Homo sapiens: one gene and its partners. The protein of the gene in region 3 purifies or fractionates together with the protein of the main gene of each other region. This does not show direct contact. Each region holds a gene or a part of one and is shown on either strand. Other genes may lie near its edges.

Region 1 (7,145 bases), on a different chromosome or scaffold from region 3:
TACCTGGCCAACATGGCGAAACCCTGTCTCTACTAAAAATACAAAAAGTAGTCGGGTGTGGTGTCAGATGCCTGTAATTCCAGCTACTCGTTAGGCTGAGGCTGGAGAATCGCTTGAACCCGGGAGGCACAGGTTGCAGTGAGCCGAGATCACCCCACTGTACTCCAGCCTGGGTCACAGAGCAAGACTCCATCTCAAAAAACAAAACAAAAAAAAAAAAAAAAAAGAAGAAGAAGAAAAGGAAAAAAAAAAAAAAGAGAAGAAGGATAATTCATGTAATTCATGAAGGCCTCCCTAGCCCCTGCCTGCTGCTTCCTCTTCCCTTTGGCCAAGCAGGAGCAGGGGACCCAGGCATCCTGCTGGGGCCCTGGTGAGCCTCGTAGGAGCTGCCCCAGGCTCCGGCTTGGGTGCATGCGGGCAGGAGCCAGGGCCTGGCAGAGCTGCTCACCTGTAGGGGCCGGGTCCTGGTAGGGGATGGTTGCAGCCAATTTTTGTTGGTTGGCAGTGGGTATCATTGCCGACGCGGAGGACATGGAGCTGGCCTCTGGTCTGGTACAGCACCCGGTTGGCCCTCAGTGTGAGATAGTAGCCCCTCTGGGAGAAGTTGGCAGGAGCAGGGATGTCCTGGTTTGTCCGTGGGGCCGTGAAGCTCTGGGTGGCTAAGGGTGGCACCATGGTCAGACAGGTCACACAGCAGGATCCCACCCTCACCTTACCAAGCCTGACAGCCCTCCCCGGCCCCATCCCCTGCAGCACCTGCTCCCTGCATCTCCCTGCAACACACCCGCTACTGCCCTTAGGCCCGCAGGCCCATTTCACATAGGGAAAACCGAAGCCTGGCCCCAGCAGCACCCACCGTTGCTGAGGGCCACCACCAGCCAGATGGTATCCAAGTCAGAGATGTTGTGGCTGCTGAACTGGCCTAGAGGCTGCTCCAGCGTGAAGGTGGACAGGGTGAGCCTCCCCGCCAAGGTGTCGTTTGAGAGCTGGGGCACATAGCTGATGTGCTCTGGGGCAGCTGGAAGGGGAGGGCAGAGAGGAGAGTCCAAATGGGGCAACCAAGCCCCAACAGCTCTGGTCTCCCCCCGCCCAGATCCAGACTTAACATGGGAGCCCCAAGTTACGGGCACTTCCTGGGAGGTCAGGTCCGGTATGAACCAGGAAGCTTTCCCGGCAACTCTATGCCCCATGGGCATGGGTGGGAGGCCTGAGTCCAGCCCCTGGCCCCTCTCTTAGGAGCCTACTGGGGGTGGGCACTGTGGGAGGTCTAGGACAATGGTGGCATGGGAGGTCCCACCCTGGCGGTAGGCACAGTTCTCCTGGGCCGGGCCATGTTGGGATGGAACTGGAATTTGGGGGCAGCCTGACCCTAGGCTGAACTCTGTTCCTGACATGCCCAGTGACCTCCAACTTAAGTCCCTCCAGCTCCACCCACATGGTCTAGGTTGTTTTGCTTGATGAGAGGATGCGTGGCTTGGCAGGGGTCGGGGGGATGGCACAGGAAGGTCCTCTTGGCTGAGACCCCAGGCTGGGACACAGACTGCCCAGAGGGTCCGGGGGCTCTGGAGCCAGAGCTTGGTTCCGAGTGAGTCTAGAACGTCCTCTTCAACCTGCCTGGTTCTCTGCCGCCTCCCAACATGGCCCCGAGGCATCTTCGCCTTCAGGACCAGGTCCCCCTCTCAGACTCCCACCTCATCTCTCTGGGGAAGGGTGGGGGACGAGGACAAGCTTCCCAGGTCTGTACCCCAAAGGGGACTCAGGATTGGCAACTTGGCCTGTGTCCAGCCTTGCTGGTTGGAGAGCTCAGACCTCCCCAACCCCAAATACTGGTCTAGGAGAAGCAGAACGATGGAGTGGGTTTCTATGTGAGTCTCCAGCAGCTGCCCCTGTTCAGTTCAGTTCAGTTCAACTTCATTCATTTACGTTGAATTCAACTCAACTCCAAAGGTTCAGGCTAGAGTCTTCCTTGGGGAAGGATTGTCACGATTCCTTTCTTACAGCTCTCAGTCCTATCTCTGAAGCCCAGGGCACTCTGCGTGCAGGAGGCACGTAATGTTTAGAAAGAGAAGTGGAGGCCGGGCGCGGTGGCTCACGTCTGTAATCCCAGCACTTTGGGAGACTAAGGCGGGCATATCACGAGGTCAGGAGTTCGAGACCAGACTGGCCAATATGGTGAAACCCTGTTTCTACTAAAAATACAAAAATTAGCCAGACATAGTGGCGCACGGCTGTAATCTCAGCTACTCAGGAGGCTGAGGCAGGAGAATTGCTTGAACCCGAGAGGCGGAGGTTGTGGTGAGCTGAGATCGCGCCACTGTACTCCAGCCTGGGTGACAGTGGGAGACTCTGTCTCGAAAAAAAAAAAAAAAGAAAGAAAAAAAAGAAAAAGAAAAAGAAAAAGAGAAGCGGAGCAGTCAGAGATTGGGGTTGGGGGCAGAGATTGTAGGACTGTATCTCTCAGCCTGTCCAGTTTTTCTTTTCTTTTCTTTTTTGAGACAGGGTCTTGCTGTTTGGCCCAGGCTGGAGTGCAGTGGCGCATTCATAGTTCACTGCATGGGCTCAAGCCATCCTCCCGCCTCAGTCTCCCAAGTAGCTGGGATTACAGGTGCACTCCACCACACCCAGCTAATTAAAAACAAAAATCTTAAAAAAAAAAATCTTTTTGAAAAAAGGGGTCTTGTTATGTTGCCCAGGCTGGGCTTACCAGAGCTTCCTGGGGACATGCATTGTCCTGGACATCTGGAAACCTCTCCTCAGGGAAAGGAAGGAGGCAGGAGCCATGTGTGAGAATTTGGAAACAAAGTGAGGTCTTGGGTTTGTCCTGCAGCCTGAGATGCAGCGGGTACCCCTGTGCCAATCCCCACCCTTACTCACCCACGTCTGTCCCAGGCTGGACACGGGTCAGTAGCAGCAACAGCGACACTAGCAGCTGGGACTGTCCCGCAGAGAGCCCTATGGCCGGGCCAAGCCTCCAGCTGTTGTCCATCTGTCTGTCCGTCCGTCTGCAGTGTCTGCAGCCCCAGAGGCTCCCCTGTCTGTAGTCTGTGCTGTGCTAGGGGAAGCTGTTCCTGGCATCTCCTGCTGCCCCTCCCAGCTACCCCCTCCTCTCAAACAACTGGTTGGACAGGTTTGGGGGCAGAATCTGCCAGCCCAGTGAATCTGGCATCGCCAGGGAGGGGTCTGAAGAGAACATACAGTTGCAAGACAAGCCTGGACTACCCCCCCCACCCACCAGGAGCGCCTGACCAGGGAGGGGCTGAGGAAGGAGGCGGGGCAGCCTCAGGATCCAGGCTGCCCCAGGGACAATCCCGCTAAGTCTACCCCGTGGATCTCCTTGTCCAAACAGTCCCCAATGTAGCGACTCTTCCTTTAGGACCTGAGGTGGGAGGATCACTCGAGCCTGGGAGGTTGAGGCTGCAGTGAGCCAAGATGGCACCACTGCACTCCAGCCTGGATGACAGAGTGGGACCCTGCCTCAAAAAAAAAAAACAAAAAACAAAAAACAAAAAACCAACCTAGGAGGAGTTGGTGTCTGTTTTTGGTTCATAGGGAGTGCCGCTCAAGCAAACTCCCTGGAGTCTCTTTTATTTATTATTATTTTTTTTTGGGGGGGGCAGGGTCTCACTCTTTCGCCCAGGCTGGAGTGCAGTGGTGCGATCATAGCTCACTGTGGCCTTGACCTCCCAGGCTCAAGGTTCTCAGATTCTCAGGCCCCACCCTGGGGAAGGATGGAGGATGAGGACAAGCTTCCCAGGTCCACATGACAGAGGGACTCAGGATTGGCAATTTGGCCTGTGTCCAGCTTTGCTGCTCAGAGAGCTCAGATCCCCACCCTCAATTCACTCCCTTGTGTGGAAGGGAGTGACCCTCACTTTCTAGCACACACAGGGAAGAGGGCTTGGCTAAGAGCACCCAGGAGGTCAGGGCAGGACTGGGGATTAGATCACACCCAAATGCATCTCTGTGGCACTCCTGGTATAGCCCTGCTGTCCCCCTGTAGCCTGGCCCTGGGAGGGGGGCTCCCAGACTTCACACCCCCTCACCTCTTTATCCAGGGGACCGGCTGTCTCTTCCTCCTTCATCCCCAGCCTCTGTCAGGGCAGGGTAGTTCCTCCTCGAGACAGAAAATTACCAGATGGAAGTCCAGGCATGGTGGCTCACGCCTGTAATCCCAGCATTTTGAGAGGCCGAGGTGGGTGGATCACCTGAGGTCAGGAGTTCGAGACCAGCCTGGCCAACACGGCGAAACCCCATCTCTACTAAAAATACAAAATTAGCTGGACGTGGTGGCTTGTTCTTGTAACTCCAGCTACGCAGGAGGCTGAGGCAGGAGAACCACTTGAACCCAGGAGGCAGAGGTTGCAATGAGCCGAGATCGCACCACTGCATTCCAGCCTGGGCAACAAGAGTGAAACTCCCCCTCAAAAAAAAAAAAAAAAAAAAAAGATGAGATGGGGCTCAGGGCAGGTGGAGCGAGACCTGTGACCACCTCTCCCCTGGATCGGGGTGCTAGCCCCCGTCAGCCTGACCTTCACGCTCTAATTATGCCAGATGTCTTCATTCTGGGAAACCCAACAGATTATCACCTGTGGGCCCCATTTTTGGATGAAGAGGGACCATTCCCTGAAGGGGACATACCTCAGTTCCCCGAGGGGATTCAGATGTTCACCTCAACTCACAAGAAAAACTTCTGGCCGGGCGCAGTGGTTCACACCTGTAATCCCAGCACTTTGGGTGGCCAAGGTGGGCGGATCATCTGAGGTCAGAAGTTTGAGACCAGCCTGACCAATGTGGAAAAACCCCGTCTCTACTAAAGATACAAAATTAGCCAGTCGTGGTGGCACGCGCCTGTAATTCCAGCTACTCGGGAGGTTGAGGCACAAGAATCGCTTGGACCCAGGATGGGGAGGCCGTAGTGAGCCGAGATCACACCACTGCACTCCAGCCTGGGTGACAAAGTGAGACTCCATCTTAAAAAAAAAAGAACAAGAACAAAAACAAAAACTAGGAAGAGTTGGTGTCTGTTTTTGGTTCGTAGAGAGTGCCTTCTAGCTGTGTCCTCATATGGTGGAAGGGTCAAGGAAGCTCTCTGGGGTCTCTTTTATTTATTATATTATTATTATTTTTTGAGACGGGTCTCACTCTGTTGCCCAGGCTGGAGTGCAGTGGTGTGATCATAGCTCACTGCAGCCTTGACCTCCCAGGATCAAGTGATCCTCCCACTTCAGCCTCCCTAGTAGCTGAGACTGCAGGTATAAGGCACCATGCCCAGCTAATTTTTTGTTTGTTTGTTTGTTTGTTTTGAGACAGAGTCTCACTGTCGTTCAGGCTGGAGTGCAATGGCACGATCTCGGCTCACTGCAACCTCCACCTCCTGGGTTCAAGTGATTCTCCTGCCTCAGCCTGCTGCGTAGCTGGGATTACTGGCGTGCACAACCACTCCTGGTTAATTTTTGTATTTTTGGTAGAGACGGGGTTCGCCATGTTGGCCAGGCTGGTCTTGAACCCCTGACCTCATGTGATCTGCCTGCCTCGGCCTCCCAAAGTGCTGAAATTACAGGCGTGAGCCACTGTGTCCGGCTGCCCAGCTAATTTTTTAACTTTTTGTAGAAAGAGAGTCTTACTGTGTTGCCCAGGCTGGTCTCAAATTCCTGGGCTCAAGTGATCCTCCCACCTCAGCCTCCTGAAGTTCTGGGATTCCAGGTGTGAGCCACCATGTCCGGCCTGTATAATACAATTTTTCCCTCTCTCACTCCCTTTCAAAAGGCAGTTGAAAGCAGACATCAGAATGTGGGAAGGGCTTGTTTCCCCTTTTTGAAAACACGTTCTTGCTCATCGACTCATCCTCTCCTTGGGTCCCCAGAGATGGGCAGGGCAGGTGTTATGACTAATCTCATTATATGGATGAGAAGAAACCTGGGGCCCAGCAGGGAAAGAAACTTCCTGCAGTCCCAGGGCAGGTCAGCGGCAGGGCTGGGACCCAACCCCAGGTCTCCTGTACCCAGGCAGGACTCCCTCTTTGCCTTTTTTTTTAAAATTTAATTAATTAATTTGAGTTGGAGTCTCGGTCTGTCACCCAGGCTGGAGTGCAGTGGCACAATCTCAGCTCACTGCAGCTTCTGCCTCTGGGGTTCCAGTGATTCTCCTGTCTCAACCTCCCAGGTAGCTGAGATTACGGGCACACGCCACCACGCCTGGCCAACTTTAGTATTTTTAGTAAAGACAGGGTTTCACCATGTTGGCCAGGCTGGTCTCAAACTCCTGACTTCAGGTGATCCACCTGCCTCGGCCTCCCAAAGTGCTGGGATTACAGGTGTGAGCCACTGCACCCAGCCTGTCACCTTTTTTTTTTTTTTTTTGAGACTGAGTCTCCCTTTGTCACCCAGGCTGCCATGCAGTGGTGCCATCATAGCTCACTGCAATCTGTCTCCTGGGCTCAAACAATGATCCCGCCTCAGCCTCCTGAATAGCAGAGACGACAGGTGTGCACCACCATGCCTGGCTCATTTTTAAATTTTTTGTAGAGATGTGGTCTCACTATGTTGCCCAGGCTGGTCTCGAACTCCTGGGCTCAAGTGATCCTCCCACCTTGGCTTCCCAAAATGCTGGGATTACAGGTGTGAGCCACTGCACCCGCCCTTGAATGGATTTTAAAAACCCACCTAGGCTGGGCGTGGTGGTGCATGTTTGTAGTTCCAGTACTTTGAGAGGCTGAGGCCGGAGGATCATATGAGGCCAGGAGTTTAAGGTTGCAGTGAACCATGATCATACCACTGCACTCCAGCCTAGGCGACGGAGTGAGACCCTGTCTCTAAACTAATAATAATTTTTGAAAGTGTTAAAATCCACCTAGAATTTATTTTTGGTGTGATGTGTGATTCAAATTATTTTTTTCTCAAGTTAGCCCGTTATTCAAACACTAAAATATTGAAAAATGCATCCTAAGCCGGGTGCAGTGGCTCACACCAGCACTTTGGGAGGCCAACGCAGGCGGATCACCCGAGGTTGGGAGTTCAAGACCAGCCTGACCAACATGGAGAATAATAATAAGCCGAGATCGCACCATTGTACTCCAGCCTGGGCAGCGAGAGTGAAACTCCATCTCAAAAAGAAAGAGAGAAAGAGAGAGAGAGAGATAAAGGAAG
Region 2 (7,151 bases), on a different chromosome or scaffold from region 3:
AATGTCTTGGGTTCTCTCTTTTCTCTCCAGGTCCTATGGGCTTTGTCTTCCTCTCTGCCCCACCCAGATAATCGCTGCTGCCCCTCCACTCCCAAGATGCAGCTGTGATTCTCCATCCCCACACATCCCTCATCAATGGTTGACTGCAAAGAAGTGAGAAGCCAAGCTTAGATTCATGCTCATGCCTGAACACCCTGAGAGCCTGGTGCTGGAGGGCTGGGTATCCCCTTGGCCTGCCACCAGCACCTGCACCCACACCAGGCTGGAGCCACGCTCTGCGCACAGAAGGTGGCCTTGATTTCTCAGGCACAGCTGACCTCAGAGATACTGGTCCTGACTCTGCCAGGTCTCTTATCCCTAGTCTTGTTGCCCCAGTTCCTTCTGGATTCAAGGCGATGTTGCCTCAAAACAAGGACCAGGTGCTGCCACAGACCTCAGTGCTCCCTGGGCGCCCCACTTGGGGCTTCTCACAACTTGTGGACTCCTCTCCTCACAACCTACAGCCTCTCTCTCCCCATCAGGGCCTCCCTCCCTCTCAACCACCGTTCTCTTCCACTCAGTCCCGTCGTCCCTCCTCCCCTCCACCAGCATCCCCCTCTCCTGGCTTCCAATTCGGCTCTTGTGACTCAAATTCTGACTTTGCTCCACATCCCTATTCTCCCTCTCTCCCAAGTTCCCCTACTTTCTTTCACCAGAACTACCTCTCTCTCCCCCGTCCACGTGCATCCTCTCCCTCCAACCACTGGCTGTACCCCTCTCCCCCTCTGACCCCTTCCTTTTCTCCCTCCCAGCCTCAGAACTCCTCCCTTCCCCACTCACCTTGCCAGTCCCCTTCCCACCCCGAGGAACTGCATAGCTCCACACTCACTTCCCCAGGCCCCAGCCCACCTTCTCATAGGCTCCACTCTAACAGGCAGACATGGCGCTGGCATCAGTACAGGGACACTGGGTCCGGGTCCCCTGGAGTGGTGGAGAGATGCGTGCCAAGCGAGAAGGATCCTGCACAGTTCAGGGACCCAGGGGCCCTGGCCCAGGCCCTGGTGGTCCAGCTGGGGCACCGCCGCATCGCACACGACCTGCGGCTACTGCTTTTGCAGCACCTGTGGCTAGGCAGAACCGGCCAGGCCCCAGTCGTGGAGTATCCTATATGCCTGGTGTGCCTCCGGCCCCGCAGCCCCTCCTGCCCCCTCCCCAGGTACAGGACTGGACCCCGGCTGCTTGCTTTCCCTCAACTACTGCCCTGTGTGCAGGGCCAGGAATCTGGGCCACTCCGGATAGGCATCGGCTTCGGCCTCCGCCTGCCTCAGGGCCAGGCCAGGGCCTTGCATCTGCTGCCCGAGAAAAGGCCGAAGGAAGCAGGGCCTCAGGGCAAGGCTACTCAGGCCTGTGGGCATCAATTGCCAGCATCTCAGCCTCCAGCAGCTCAGGCCCGGGCCGACCCAGTCCCAGGCACACCCTCCCAGACCAGGAGCTTCAGGTCTGCAGGCCTTCAATCACCAAACTCCCCACGATGTTTCTCCGGGCCTCCACCTCGGGCACCAAAACAGGTCACTACCTCCCTGAAGCCCAGGCCTTGCCCTGGCCCAAAGAGGCCAGTTTCTCTGGAGCTCATTCTCCAAAAGTCATCAGTCTAGTTCCAGAGCCACGGAGGCCCCCTGGAACACCCCCTCCAAACCCAACCCTCCCAACCAGGCCCCAGATCTCGGGGAGTCCCCGAGACACCCTGAAGGGCTGGCTGGCCGGAGGTCAGGTGTGTTCTCCTGCTCTGAACCCTGGGAGCCCCTTGTGGAGTCTGCTGTCTCCAGGCTGAAGAGGACCAAGGGCACCAAGGCCCCATTCAGCCCTCCGTGTATCTAATAAAGTCTGACCCTGTGAAACTTGTGTTTGCGTCCTGCTGAGTCCACAGAATAGGTGGCTGTAACTATAGGGGTGCCAGTCCCTAACAAGACCCTTGGTGGCGGGGAGGGGGTGGTTCATGCCTATAATCCCAACACACTGGAAGGCTGAGGTAGGAGGATCACTTGAAGCCACGAGTTTGAGACCAGCCTGGGCAACATAGCAAGACCCTGTCTCTCCAAAAACAAAAATATAAAAAAATTAGCTGAGTATGGTGGCGCGTGCCTGTACTACCAGCTACTCAAGAGGCTAAAGTGGGAGGATCACTTGAGTCCAGGAGTTCAAGGTTGCAATGAGCTATATCATGCCATTGCACTCCAGCCTGGGTGACAGAGACCCTATCTCAAAAAAAAAAAAAAAAAAAAGAGGGCATGGTGTGGTTGCTCATGCCTATAATCCCAGCACTTTGGGAGGCCAAGGTGGGCATATCATTTAAGGTCAGGAGTTACGAGACCAGCCTGGCCAACATGGTGAAACTCCATCTCTACTAAAAATACAAAAATTAGCTGGGTGTGGTGGCGGGTGCCTGTAGTTCCAGCTACTCAGGAGGCTGAGGCAGGAGAATCACTTCAACCTGGGAGGTGGAGGGTGCAGTGAGCTGAGATCAGGCCACTGCACTCCAGACTGGGCAACAGAGCGAGACTCCGTCTCAAAAAATAAAAAAGACCCTGGAGGGTGGTGTCAAAGGAAACGGAGAGGCCAGAAAGAGCAGGTGCCATGTATCCAAGGAGGACAAGGGACCCACAAGGCCTGGGGACTTGAGATATGCAGAGAGCTTGGCCAGGCCCTTCACACATCTAATTCAACTCTGTGGGACAGATATTGGCATCCCCAAAGATGAAGCCACTGCGCTATTCCTCTGGGTGCACCTTAGGTTAATGAGAATGCAGGAGAGGGCGTCTCTTTGCAGGGAAGGACATCCCTTGTGCTCGCTCTCAGGAGTGCACAAAGGTCCTCATCAGATCAGAAACCCGAGGGAGAATGGAGTGTCAGGCGCAGAAGATACCTGCCCGGGAGCCAAACTGCCCCCTCTGAGGCCAGCAAAGCAGCTGGCCACCCACCAAGCCACCAGCCCAGGAGTGTGAAGCCTTGAGAAAGGGAATGGCAGACACCACCCCTGCCAAAAGTGGGCGATAGGCGTTAAGGATGACAGACGTGTCCTCATACGAGGAAGCAATGGATTCAGCATTTGAAGTCAGGTTTATTTTTAAGTTCATGCTGCCTCCGTTAAGAAGCAAGAGACTCCGGTGGTTTCTGGTGTGTGCCCTCGGGCAAATCACTTCCTCTCTGAGGTAAGATGCAAAGGCCTGTGCTCCTAGGAGTTGGCATATCACTCCTCAGATGGGAACAGTCCTTATTTGAGGATTTTATGTGTGTGAGAGACAGGGTCTAGCTCTGTTGCCCAGGGGCTGGAGTGCAGTGGTGACATCACTGGTGGTCCAGCGCAGCCTCGACCTCCCAGTCTCAAGTGATCCTCCCGCCTGAGCCTCCTGGGCACCTGGGCCCACAGGTGCCACGATGTTTGGCTAATTTTTAAATATTTCGTAGGGACGGATCCCCATGTTGCCCAGGCTGTCTCGAAAGCCTGGGCTCAAGCCATCCTCCTCTCTCGGACTTTCCGAAAGTGTTGGGATTACAGGAGGATTACAGGCATGAACCACCGTGCCTGGCAGAGGATTTTTTTTTTTTTGAGACGGAGTTTCACTCTTGTTGCTTGTTGCCCAGGCTGAAGAGCAATGGCAATGGCGCGATCTCGGCTCACTGCAACCTCTACTTCCCAGGTTCAAGTGATTCTCCTGCCTCAGGCTCCCGAGTAGCTGGGATTACAGGCGCACGCCACCACGCCCTTTGTATTTTTGGTAGAGACGGGGTTTCTCCATGTTGGTCAGGCTGGTCTCGAACTCCTGATCCGCCCGCCTAGGACTCACAAAGTGCTGGGATTACAGGCGCGAGTCGGATTTCTTTATTAAAGGTTGACCTTCATCAACCTCCATTGGCTCCACCTCCTCCGCCCGCGCCCCGCGCCCCGCACAAAAATGGCGAAGTCGGTGCTGGGCGACTCTGCCTCCGCGCCAGGGGTGGAGAACCGAAGCCCCGCCCCGGGAAACGCGGCCCCGCGGCCGGCTAGTGCTGACGCGTGTCGGCGCTCCTGCGCCTGCGCGGAGGGAGCCGCGAGACAGGTGCGCATGCGCAGTGCGCGTCTGCGAGACCGACTTGGACGGAGCCGAGCTGAGGCTCGGCTTCCTGCTGATGGTCAGGGTTTTGGCAACTCCCCGGTGTGAGAGGGGTAGGGAGTGCTCCCGGCGGCGACGGGGCCGAGTTCACCAGCCGCCGGGGCAGTAGTCGAAGGCCCGGCGCGGCATGTCCTGGGTGCCGCGGTGCGGGCAGTGAACGCGCGCCGGGCGGGATGGGCCGGCGCCGGGCGCCAGAGCTGTACCGGGCTCCGTTCCCGTTGTACGCGCTTCAGGTCGACCCCAGCACTGGGCTGCTCATCGCTGCGGGCGGAGGAGGCGCCGCCAAGACAGGCATAAAGAATGGCGTGGTGAGAGCGCAGGGCCACTGGGGCTGGGTCTTGCTGCGGGCTGGCGGCGATTCCAGGGTGGCCGGGGGGTCGCGGGGCGGGCCACACTCCAGCTTCGGGCCCTGCCCACTTCTGTTGGGAAGACCCGCTTGCCTGACGCCCAGGGGCGAATTTCAGTCGAGAACTCAGCGGGCGGAGGAGAGGCTTTTAAGGTAAAGTGAAAACTGCACACAGCTGCAGAGTCGCCAGGAACGCTTCAGCTCCGCCTCAGAGCAGCTCCAGGGGTCTTATACTGGCCTTTTCCGGGAGGTCTTGCCTGCCCTCTAGCAGCGGCGAGAGTGGTGCATTTGGGTTTAGGCTAAGTTCCTTCCCTCTCCTGAGCTTCACCCTGTTCTGTAAAATAGAGGTAATAATCCCAGTCCTGCTCACTGTGTAGATTTGTGAGGCCCAAATGAGAGAAAAAAGACTCGAGAAACCCTTGTGAACTAGAACGTGCAGAAAGCAAAGGGGTAAGACATCAGACTCTTCCCTAAACGTGCTCTCTGGGCACCCCTGAACTTGCTCATCCGGGTTCCCCCTCCCACAGCACTTTCTGCAGCTAGAGCTGATTAATGGGCGCTTGAGTGCCTCCTTGCTGCACTCCCATGACACAGAGACACGGGCCACCATGAACTTGGCACTGGCTGGTGACATCCTTGCTGCAGGGCAGGATGCCCACTGTCAGCTCCTGCGCTTCCAGGCACATCAACAGCAGGGCAACAAGGCAGAGAAGGCCGGTGAGGAGCTCCCTCTCTACCCCCTTGGGGAAAGGGTTGAACGAGTAAGGTCACTCTTGGTGTCTCTAAAGAAGTGGGTCTGGAAGTAGGGTTTTGGTAGCAAGCTAGAAGTTGTATGGGCACCTGCCATGGAGAGAGGGGCCAGTACTCCTTACTGTAGAAGCCTGGAACCTGGCCAAGTGTTTGTGTTACAGGTTCCAAGGAGCAGGGGCCTCGACAAAGGAAGGGAGCAGCCCCAGCAGAGAAGAAATGTGGAGCGGAAACCCAGCACGAGGGGCTAGAACTCAGGGTAGAGAATTTGCAGGCGGTGCAGACAGACTTTAGCTCCGATCCACTGCAGAAAGTTGTGTGCTTCAACCACGATAATACCCTGCTTGCCACTGGAGGAACAGATGGCTACGTCCGTGTCTGGAAGGTGTGGGTTTGCAGGGTTAGGGAGGGTGAATGTCAGTAGCAACAGGATCAAAATTGTGAGAAGTTGAACGTGGCATCTGGGAAACTTGTGAATGAAGCTTGCATTGAGGGGCCATTAGAAGGGGTGGCGTGGGCATCAGTCACAGTGTACTTGCTGGACACCTGAGTTAACCATGGTGGTTGTTTGGCTACAGGTGCCCAGCCTGGAGAAGGTTCTGGAGTTCAAAGCCCACGAAGGGGAGATTGAAGACCTGGCTTTAGGGCCTGATGGCAAGGTGAGGGGCTGGGGGTGGGAGGAGGATGGAGAAAGGAGAGAGGAGGTGCTTATGCTGCTTGCCCAGTAAGTGGATCCCCTAACTGTCCATCCTTGGAATCTTTATTCCTAACTAGTTGGTAACCGTGGGCCGGGACCTTAAGGCCTCTGTGTGGCAGAAGGATCAGCTGGTGACACAGCTGCACTGGCAAGAAAATGGACCCACCTTTTCCAGCACACCTTACCGCTACCAGGCCTGCAGGTGTGAAGACTTTGGGTGGTGGCTGAAAGAGGCATAGCCCAGCTGTGGTGGGGGAGAGGGAAAAGACTGGGGATGGGAGAGCTGGGGAGGAACTTGTTGAGTGTTACCCCAGGTCTGACCAGGGTGCAGGTGGTGCACAAACCTCTGAGGAGGGTTGGGCAGGCCCTAGGAGCTGAATAGCCCCTCATCCGGCCCCCAGGTTTGGGCAGGTTCCAGACCAGCCTGCTGGCCTGCGACTCTTCACAGTGCAAATTCCCCACAAGCGCCTGCGCCAGCCCCCTCCCTGCTACCTCACAGCCTGGGATGGCTCCAACTTCTTGCCCCTTCGGACCAAGTCCTGTGGCCATGAAGTCGTCTCCTGCCTCGATGTCAGGTGTGAGACATTGCTGCCTTGGCTAGGTAGGGGGTCCCTGAGGGAGCTTGGAAAGGAGTCCTGCCTGGGTCCCTACGGACCGGTATTGGGGTATGAGGGTTGCTGCACAAGCCTCCAGGACAATGAGCTCTTTATTGTTTGTTGCAGTGAATCCGGCACCTTCCTAGGCCTGGGCACAGTCACTGGCTCTGTTGCCATCTACATAGCTTTCTCTCTCCAGGTAATGGGTGGAGGTTGGCATGGCCCTGTGGGTGGACTGTAGGCCTGTCTCTACCCTGAGTTTGCAGGAAGGAGTCTGGCCCATCCTATCGAGGGAAATCCTGGGGGTGGGGAACATGCTTTCCAGAAAGAGAGTTCCCAGCTAGGCCTTTCCTCACTGGTATTCCTTCTGCCCACAGTGCCTCTACTACGTGAGGGAGGCCCATGGCATTGTGGTGACGGATGTGGCCTTTCTACCTGAGAAGGGTCGTGGTCCAGAGCTCCTTGGGTCCCATGAAACTGCCCTGTTCTCTGTGGCTGTGGACAGTCGTTGCCAGCTGCATCTGTTGCCCTCACGGCGTGAGTCATTGGGGCAGGGCAGGCAGGCACCACCCCACGTTTAATGACCAGAAACGTGCCCCCCGGAGGCTGGGCTCTTTGTGCCACTCCTCCTTTGA
Region 3 (7,948 bases):
GGCTTCACTATGTTGGCCAGCCTGGTCTCGAACTCCTGACCTCAGGTGATCCACCCGCCTTGGCCTCCCAAAGTCCTGGGATTACAGGAGTGAGCCACTGCACCTGGCACCTGCAGGAAAATCTGTGTGTGTCCCCTGCCCCCAAAGCCCTCTGGGCTGGAAGGCTTGGCAAGGTTTCAGGTTTGTGCTGCGGTGCTTCGTCCTTATTCCTGGCTCTTCCAGAGGCTGGTGGCTCTTAGGGCTCAGCAGGGCTGCTGCCTGGGACAGGGAGACCAGGGGACCCAGGAAGCCCTGGCTCAGAGGAACTGCATTCTGCCCGCAACAAAGACGGAGTCAAACAAGAACTCCGGAGTTTGCAGAAGTGTTTCCCTTTAAGGAAACGCTTCTATCCTGTGCAGCAACCTAGGTTTAGGGTCCAACTGTCTCCAAAGGACCACTTGAGAAGCAAGAAGGAGCCTGGTGAGGCTGCTCCCAGTGCCCTGCGGCCAGCAGTCCACACAGCCGGAGAGCCCATCTCTGAGCTGGGCGCCCCATGGCAAAGCACCCCCTGAACTTACCAGCTCGAAGGCTGCTGAAGAGCAGGAAGAGCAGTCCAGGACTGGAAAAAACAACCAGAAAGGCAGGTGAGGCGGGGCCACCAGGGAGTTACCTGTATCTTCCAAACAGGAACAGGCTGGTTCCCATGAGCAGGAGGTAGTTAAGCCCATCACAGAAATGTGAAGGCAGAGCCAGGAGCCTGCCTGCCTCTGTTCTCCATGGGAATTCGGGGTCCGGGGCCAGGACCACCACCCTCCTGCCCAGCACAGCAAGTCCGAGGGGCTGGCAGCCTCTCACCACTCTCTAGCTCTCGCGGTAACAAATCCCCAGAAACACAGTGATGCTGGCGTGAGGATGAAGGGGAGCGAGGGACGCCAGTGAGGCTGGTCTAGCCTTCCTGGGGACAGATGCCAAGAAGTTGTAGGAAATCAGAAAAAAAAAAAAAAAAAAAAGCTTTCAGGGCACATATAGTAGGAGTGTCACTTAAAATGCTGGGGAGACGGAGAACATCAGGCGTGCCCGTGACAGGGTCAGGTGAGTGACGGGACAGCCCTGTGCGGAACGCGGATCATTTTGAAACCAAACCTGAGCTCCTCCTGTTTCAGATCCTGCTGCAGCTGGTGCCCCTGCCTCGGGCAGCAAATTCCCCTCGTGACTCCAATGCCCCTGCCATCTTGGGTCTGGGAGCCTTTGCACCCTGCACGCCACAGGCTCGCCACCTCCTCCCGCCAGCCCCCAGGATGCCTTCCCCACGTGGGGGCCCTTAGTGGCCGGGACCACTTTGGTAGCAGTGCTTACCCCAGCCCCCCAAACCATCAGTTTCTGGGGCCAGCTCCCCATGAAGCAAGAGCCCCAGGAGCAGGGACATCTCCTTCTCTGATGTCCCTGCACCTCCAAGGTCTGGGAGACGCTCATCCCTCTTCTCTGTGGCCTCTGCCTGGGAAAGCTTGGGGGCTTTGTAAGTCAAAGGTTGGTCTTGTGGGAACCTCCCAGTGGGCTGTCCCTGAGCCCTGGAGCCACAGAAACCCCTGCCCCACCCACGATGGCTGTCATCTGAGTCTGCATGGAGGTGTGTCTGTGCCAAGTGAGCACACATGCACCAAGGCGGCCCCTGGCCACCAGGGGCTCTTGAAGTCTGCAGGCGGCCCTTCCTCTCTCTCCCACTCCCCCTGTTGGGGCCACCATTCTGGCTGGCAAGATGGCTGTGATGGCCTCCAGCAGGCCCCCTGCCTCCACCCTTAGCCCCTTCAAGCATTTCCCCAGAGCCACCATCTAAACGACAGCTGTGAGAACTCCTCTGTGCCCCCATTTGTCTCCCACAGTGCCCATATTCATCACCAGCCCACAAGGCCCCTCCTGTCTATGGAGGCCTCCTCAGGACATCTGGGGGCTTCCTGGGCCAGGGTGGGGGGTGCCTGCTCCAGGCTGTTTCTGGCTTGTCCCCTCCCTGGGTGCTGCCTAAGCAGCGGCCTCTGTGTCCTTTCCTTGGACCCTCAGCACCCCTGCATCTAACCTACCCCCACCCCGAGCTTGCCTCAAGACCCAGCATGGACAGGGCCGCCTACCTGAAGGTGTGGGTGGCGGAGGGCTAAGACATTTGGGAGGGCTATGACATTCCGGGACCTTTAAATTCTTTCTCTCTAGGGCAGGATCATAACTGCATACACTTCTAATGGGGAGGGGACCTGGGGAGTGTGACTCCGGTGTGGCCCAGCTCTGAGCTGTGCGGGAGGCATCCCTGGGGTCAGGGGCCTCACAGGTTCACCCAGGGGAGCACAGGCTGCGGACCCTACAACGTGGGTTGCGAAGAGTATATTTTGGATATTTTCGCAAAAATCCAGGAGGAAGCTGTCACTCCTGGTTCAGGCAGCCCCGCCTTCCCCAGTGTGGATCGGCTGCCGGGCTGCGGGGAATCCCACGTGTGTGGGGGAGGGCGTGTCCGCAGACCGTGGGCACCAGCTGGCCTTGGAGAGCGCTCGGCCGGTCACCTCCCTCCTTCTCCCTTCTTCTAGGAAATCAGCAGTGCCAGGGAGTGGAAGGGGCAGCGCCCGTGCCCCGGCGTGCAGGGTGCGCCCGCCTTCCCTCCCTCCTTCCAGCGTTCGCGGTCCTCCTTCCCTGGCAGGGACCCCGCCCCCGAGCCCGCCCCCGCACGGCTGTGCGTCCTGCCATGGGTCCCGGTGCCAGGCCCCGCCGCCCACTGCCGTCCACGCCCCGCCGGCCGCCCCGGCGCCTCCGCCGCCCGCTCCTCGGACCCGCACTGCCAGCCCGGCACCTCCAGGCGAGCCCCGCAGGCCCCGCGTCCGAGCCGAGCTGGGGACGCGCGGGCCGAGCCACCCCGCCCCTGACCGCGGCGCCTCCGCTCCTTCCCCGGCTCACCTGCCCAGCCGCATGGTGCGGGCGGAGACCTCGGGCCGCGGAGACCTCGGGGCGCGGAGACCTCGGGGCGCGGAGAACTTGGGCCGCGGGAGACCTCGGAGAGGAGCAACCTCGGGGCGCGGGAGATCGGCTCTAACTGCGCTCCCGCCGCGCCCGAGGCTCTGAGCGCCCAGCGCGCGGTGTGCTGGAGGCAGCCGTGTCCCCGCCCCGTCCCCGCCCCGCCCCCGGCCTGGCTCCTCTGGCGACCGAGACCGCCCCGGGACAGGAGGCGGGGCGCTGCGCGGCGGCTCCGGAAAGTTCGGCTCTGCCCAGGCGTGTGCCCGTCGGCCGGAGGCGGGACAGAGGCAGGTCGGCCTGTCCGCCTGGACGCGGACCTGGGCGCCGTAGGTGCCCTGGGAAGCGCAGGGGTGGGGGGTACCCGGCAGGAAGGTGGCCAGGGGTGCTGCGGGTGCCGGCGCAGCGAGGGAGGGCACCGTGGGAGGCAAGGGCCGTTCCCCGCGCCGCGCACAATGCGCCGGTCCTGCGGCCCTCCCCGAGCAGGAGTCCGGGGACCCAGGCCCCAAGGCTGGGAGAGCGCCAGGCCCCTGGCCGGCTGCGCTCCGATGATCTCCAGGACTTAAGGCGAGTGAGCTCAGCGACTGCTGAGGAATGAATGACTGAATGAACGCATGCATGAATGGAAGGAGGGAGGGAAAGTGGGCGGGCTCTACCCTCTGGGCCAGCCCCAGCCCGCCCCCACCTAGCCTTGCTCCCCTAGCCTTCTAGGGGTGTGAAGGGCGCTGGCGCAGCCTCTTTGCTTAACACTGGCTCTGAGGATCCCCCGCCGAGAAACCGAGGCAGGCTTGCGGCTCTGGGCTCGTCAGCCTTGGCAGTGGCGTCTGGCCTGGAGTCTGGGGCAGCTGGTTTGGGAAAGGCTGCACCACGCAACCGAGGGTGGGACCCAGAGTCCCTGCTCCTTCCCCACCGCACCCAGCCCACCCCGCCCTCCCTCCCTGATCCCTGCAAGCCAGGTGAGGCCCAGGGGGGACGTGACTCCCTTTCTGCAGAGGCACCTCCGGAAGGGCCTGGGTGAGGCTGCTAGACAGGGCAGCGGGGCACCCTCCTCCCGGAGCCCCCGCCTCTGGGCTGAGGCTCGGATCCCCACCGCCTCCTGCGCATGGAGGAGGCGAGAAGCGCAGGGAGACGGGGGCCCCAGACGGCACCCCGCAGGCTGCCATTCCTTCAACCAAGATGTAGAGAACGCCGTGGACAAAAGCTTTAAAAAAATTCTGAAACCTCTGCCCGTGGGAAGTCAACATTTTTGCGGAGCAGAGAGCCCAGGCACAAAATAAGAAGGCGGAAGAGACGGGCTGGGGGGATAGGGGGGACGGCGGCGGGGAAGGGCAGGGAGGGCGGCGGCGAAGGCGCAGGAAGCCCTGAAGCCGGGCGGCTTCCCCCTCCCAGGCCACGCTGAGAGACGGGGGTTGGGGGGATTTAAAATCGCGCGCCTGGCAGGGGCGGGGCGGGGGCCACCTGCCCTCCGGCGGGAAGAGCTGGGCAGGGCCCGCGGAGTGCAGGGCGGAGGCACTGGCGGTCCGCACCCGGGTGAGGTGAGGCGCGTAACCGCATCTGAGCCGGACTCTTTAGGACGAGTCCCGTCCCTGGAGTCAGAAAACCCGGTCCAGCGCCAGCGTGGACGTGCGCTTCCCGGGACACGCCCAGGGACGCCGGCTAGGACCGGCGAGGCTGGAGGGGTGGCGATGTTGGGGGCTGAGGTTCCTCGCCCCGGGGCGGGCGGCTGCTGGTAAGGGACCGCATGGCCCCGCAGGTGAGGAGGGCGCAGGTGAGGAGGGCGCAGGTGAGCCGGGCGGGCTGCGGGCAGCGCCACCTCCTCCCGGAGGCCCTCCCTGATTGACCGGCCGGGAACCGCGCGCCTCTGGGCCTGCGGCTGAGGTCCGGGGCTGCGCCGCGCCGATGAGCTGACGCCGGGCCGAGCGCTCCACCCCCAGGGCCGGGCGCACCTGAATCCCCTCCACCCGCGGGACTGCGGAGAGGGGGACGGCCCCCGGATACCGCGTGGGGGCTTTGGGAGGATGGGGAATGGGTCCTGGGGGAGCAGAGCCTCCCAAATTAAGGCCTCCCAAGAGCGCGGCCGGTCATCCGCGGCGGCGAAGGGAAGGTGCCCTGTCGGTGCGTCCGGACCCCGCAGCCCCCCAGTGCCGCCCGGGGGCGGTGGGAGAGGGGCCGACACCGCAGGGCCCGCCGTGCTGTGGCCGAGGGGGCAGGTCCAGGCTCTGCTTCCCGGGCAGACGCCGGAGACCCCAGCAAGCCAAGTGCTGCGGGCAGCCCCCCCCCCGCCCCCCCGAGAGAGGGGACGCCGCGTGGAGGCCACAGCCAGGCAGGGGCAGGAAGGCAGCTGGGCCAGAAGGGGACACTGAGGCAGGCCGAGGCGGCCGCGGGGGAGGGTGCCAGGACCAGCCCAGGAACCTCGGAGACCACGGTAAGCGGTGGCTGGTTCAGATCCCAACTCCGGAGCTGTGTGACCCCAGAAAGTTCCTTAGCCCCTTGGTGCCTGCATCCCCTGACGTGTGACATATACATGAATGGGGCTGTTGTAAGTGAACGCACACAGCACACCGGCACATGTGTCACAACACTTAGATGGGTTTAGATGAAGAAACAGGGAAACCTTTGGGAAGTTTCCTGTAGTCAAAGGAAGGTTTTCGTTTTCCCCCTCAACCGTGACTGTTTCTTGGGCCGGCAGGATAGGCTTTTGTTCTAGGGGTGTGGAGAGAGGGCCCCTTGGCAGCGTCCAGGGCCAACTGGGAACCAAGCAGGAATCGTATTTGTGCAGCCTGGAGTTCGAGGCTCTGGGTGCGAGTCGTAGTGCTTAAGCAGGAAGCAGCTGCCTGATGCCCCTAGCCCCAGGCCGCCCTGCTCTGCCGTTTCGAGGGCGTGGGGGTCTTCTGATCTCCACCTTGATGCACCTCCAGGCCCGGGTCCTTTTGGGGTCTGGCACAGCAACCTGCGTTTGACAGCATGGGCGTCCGCTGATGCTGAGAGCTCAACTTCTGGTCCAAGGAAGATCTTTTCTCTTCGGGGAACAGTCATACATTGTTTAACGAAAAGGATACATTCCTTCTGAGAAATGCGTCCTTAGGTGATTTTGTCCTTGTGTGAACACAGAGTGCACACACTGGCCCTGGTGGCACAGCCTGCTACACGCCGAGGCTGTGTGTCACAGCCTGCTGCTCCAGGGCCACGAGCCTACGCGGCAGGTGACTGTGCTGAATAGCGTAGGCAGCTGTGACTCACTGGTATTTGTGTATCTAAAGCCATCTAAACATAGAACAGGTGCAGTAAAAATACCGCGCTGTGATATGGGAGCACTGTGGCATTGCTTGTTGACCGAAGGTTATGTGGTGCATGACTGTATGTTCGTTTCCTGTGGGCGCTGGAACTAACGACCTCACGCTTGCTGGCTCAAAACAACAGCAGTCTATTCTCTCTCAGCCCTGGAGAGCGGAAGCCTGCCTGGTGGAGGCGCTAGGGGAGTATCCTACCTGCCTCTCCCAGCTCTGGGTGGCCCAGGCATCCCTGTGCTTAGCTCCAGCAGCCGCCTCAGTGGCCATGTGGCTTCTCTGTGTGGTCAAGCCTCACTTTGCCCCTCTCTTATGAGGACCTTTGGGATGACACGTAGAACCCACCTGGATGATCCAGGGAGGCCTTCCACCTCAATTTAATCCCGTCAGCAAAGTCCTTCCTTTGCCACATGAGGTAACATTCACAGGATCCGGGAATGGGGACATGGGCATCCTTTGGAGGGTGGTTCAGCTGAGCATGGGATCATGATACAGGTCCTGTGTATAAAATTCAAATACTTGGCAGGTCGGGCACAGTGGCTCACACCTGTAATTCCAACACTTAGGGAGGCCAAGGTGGGAGGATCACTTGAGCCCAGGAGTTTGAGACCAGCCTGGGCAACAGAGCAAGACCCCATCTCTACAAATAATTTTTAAAAATTAGCAGCGCATGGTAGCATGCACCTGTAGTCCCAGCTACTCCAGAGGCTGAGGCTGGAGGATCTCTTGAGCCCAGGAGACGGAGGCTGCAGTGAGCTATGGTTGTGCCACTGCACTCCAGCCTGGGGGACTAGCTAGACCCTGTCTCAAAAAATAAAAATTTAAAATAAAATACATAGAGAATCTCAAGGTGGTGTGGACAGTTCTGAGTGTTGGGGAGAGAACAAAAGAAGGAAAGTGCATTTTGGGTGGCAGAAAGCCCCTAACAGAGCCTTGGGCCCCTGCTTTGAAGCAGCCCTCACAGAAACTGACCACGAGTTATGTTGGGCCCATGACACTGGTTCCCTGGGTGGACACAGCCTGAGCCCAGCCCGCCCTGTCTGGAGCTCTCACCACCCTGCCTGGCCCGTGCCCATGGGCTCACAATGGCTTCAACCCCATTTATGTGTCAGCTCAAGCAGGCCTCCCCAGAGGGCTCATTTGCACTTGGATGCCCTCACCTGTGCTCCCTCTGTGGCTTCAGGAACCCCGGGGTCATTACAGAGCTTGCTAAATTCATCCCTGGACGTGAGATGTGTGTCGTAAGCATCCAGGACTGTCCCAAGATGGGAGAGGCGTTCAGTCATGTTCACTCAAGTGAAGGCTTCTATTCTACTTCCAGATACACCTTTTTAACCTTCAAAGGGTCCAATTTTAACCTTTCTTCCACAAAGCATTTTACGTACCACTAATAGTCCCAGTGCAGACCCCAAAGTTCCCCTGTAAGATTCATTTCCTGTGATTCGAGCACAGCCTGAGGCAGAGCTTTCTGCTGGGTTTATCCTCACTGAGACTCAGACTGCAGAGGGCCAGGAGGAGCCCTGCTTTTTGCAAGCAATACCACCTGGGGTAGGACCCACAAGTGACATCCTTTGTGCGTGGATCTGGCCTTGGCCTCCGCACCGTCTGTTCAGCAAGTCCCTCCTTTGCCTGCCAAGGCTGAGGTCCTGTACTTTTGTGTGTGGATCTGGCCTTGGCCTCCGCACCGTCTGTTC

What was found.
Region 1: the proteins of ICOSLG (region 3) and UPK3BL1 purify together in Homo sapiens (affinity purification with mass spectrometry; 2 studies listed by BioGRID and IntAct, with this or other methods). This does not show direct contact.
Region 2: the proteins of ICOSLG (region 3) and PREB purify together in Homo sapiens (affinity purification with mass spectrometry; 2 studies listed by BioGRID and IntAct, with this or other methods). This does not show direct contact.

What each region holds. Positions count from the first base shown.
Region 1 is NC_000007.14:102,639,756-102,646,900, forward strand, and holds the start of UPK3BL1 (uroplakin-3b-like protein 1 precursor), read right to left. Parts: upstream 3,037-7,145; 5' UTR 2,987-3,036; coding exon 2,875-2,986; intron 1,019-2,874; coding exon 857-1,018; intron 660-856; coding exon 449-659; intron 1-448.
Region 2 is NC_000002.12:27,131,574-27,138,724, reverse strand, and holds the start of PREB (guanine nucleotide-exchange factor SEC12), read left to right. Parts: upstream 1-4,088; 5' UTR 4,089-4,303; coding exon 4,304-4,438; intron 4,439-5,003; coding exon 5,004-5,193; intron 5,194-5,387; coding exon 5,388-5,608; intron 5,609-5,801; coding exon 5,802-5,882; intron 5,883-5,997; coding exon 5,998-6,122; intron 6,123-6,321; coding exon 6,322-6,495; exon of another isoform or gene 6,496-6,521; intron 6,522-6,642; coding exon 6,643-6,715; intron 6,716-6,893; coding exon 6,894-7,053; intron 7,054-7,151. Other genes in the region: PRR30 (proline-rich protein 30), read left to right, coding at 396-1,634.
Region 3 is NC_000021.9:44,237,891-44,245,838, forward strand, and holds the start of ICOSLG (ICOS ligand isoform a precursor), read right to left. Parts: upstream 3,054-7,948; 5' UTR 2,928-3,053; coding exon 2,914-2,927; intron 935-2,913; exon of another isoform or gene 708-934; coding exon of another isoform or gene 650-707; exon of another isoform or gene 599-649; coding exon 558-598; intron 1-557. UniProt on the Homo sapiens protein: Ligand for the T-cell-specific cell surface receptor ICOS. Acts as a costimulatory signal for T-cell proliferation and cytokine secretion. Also induces B-cell proliferation and differentiation into plasma cells.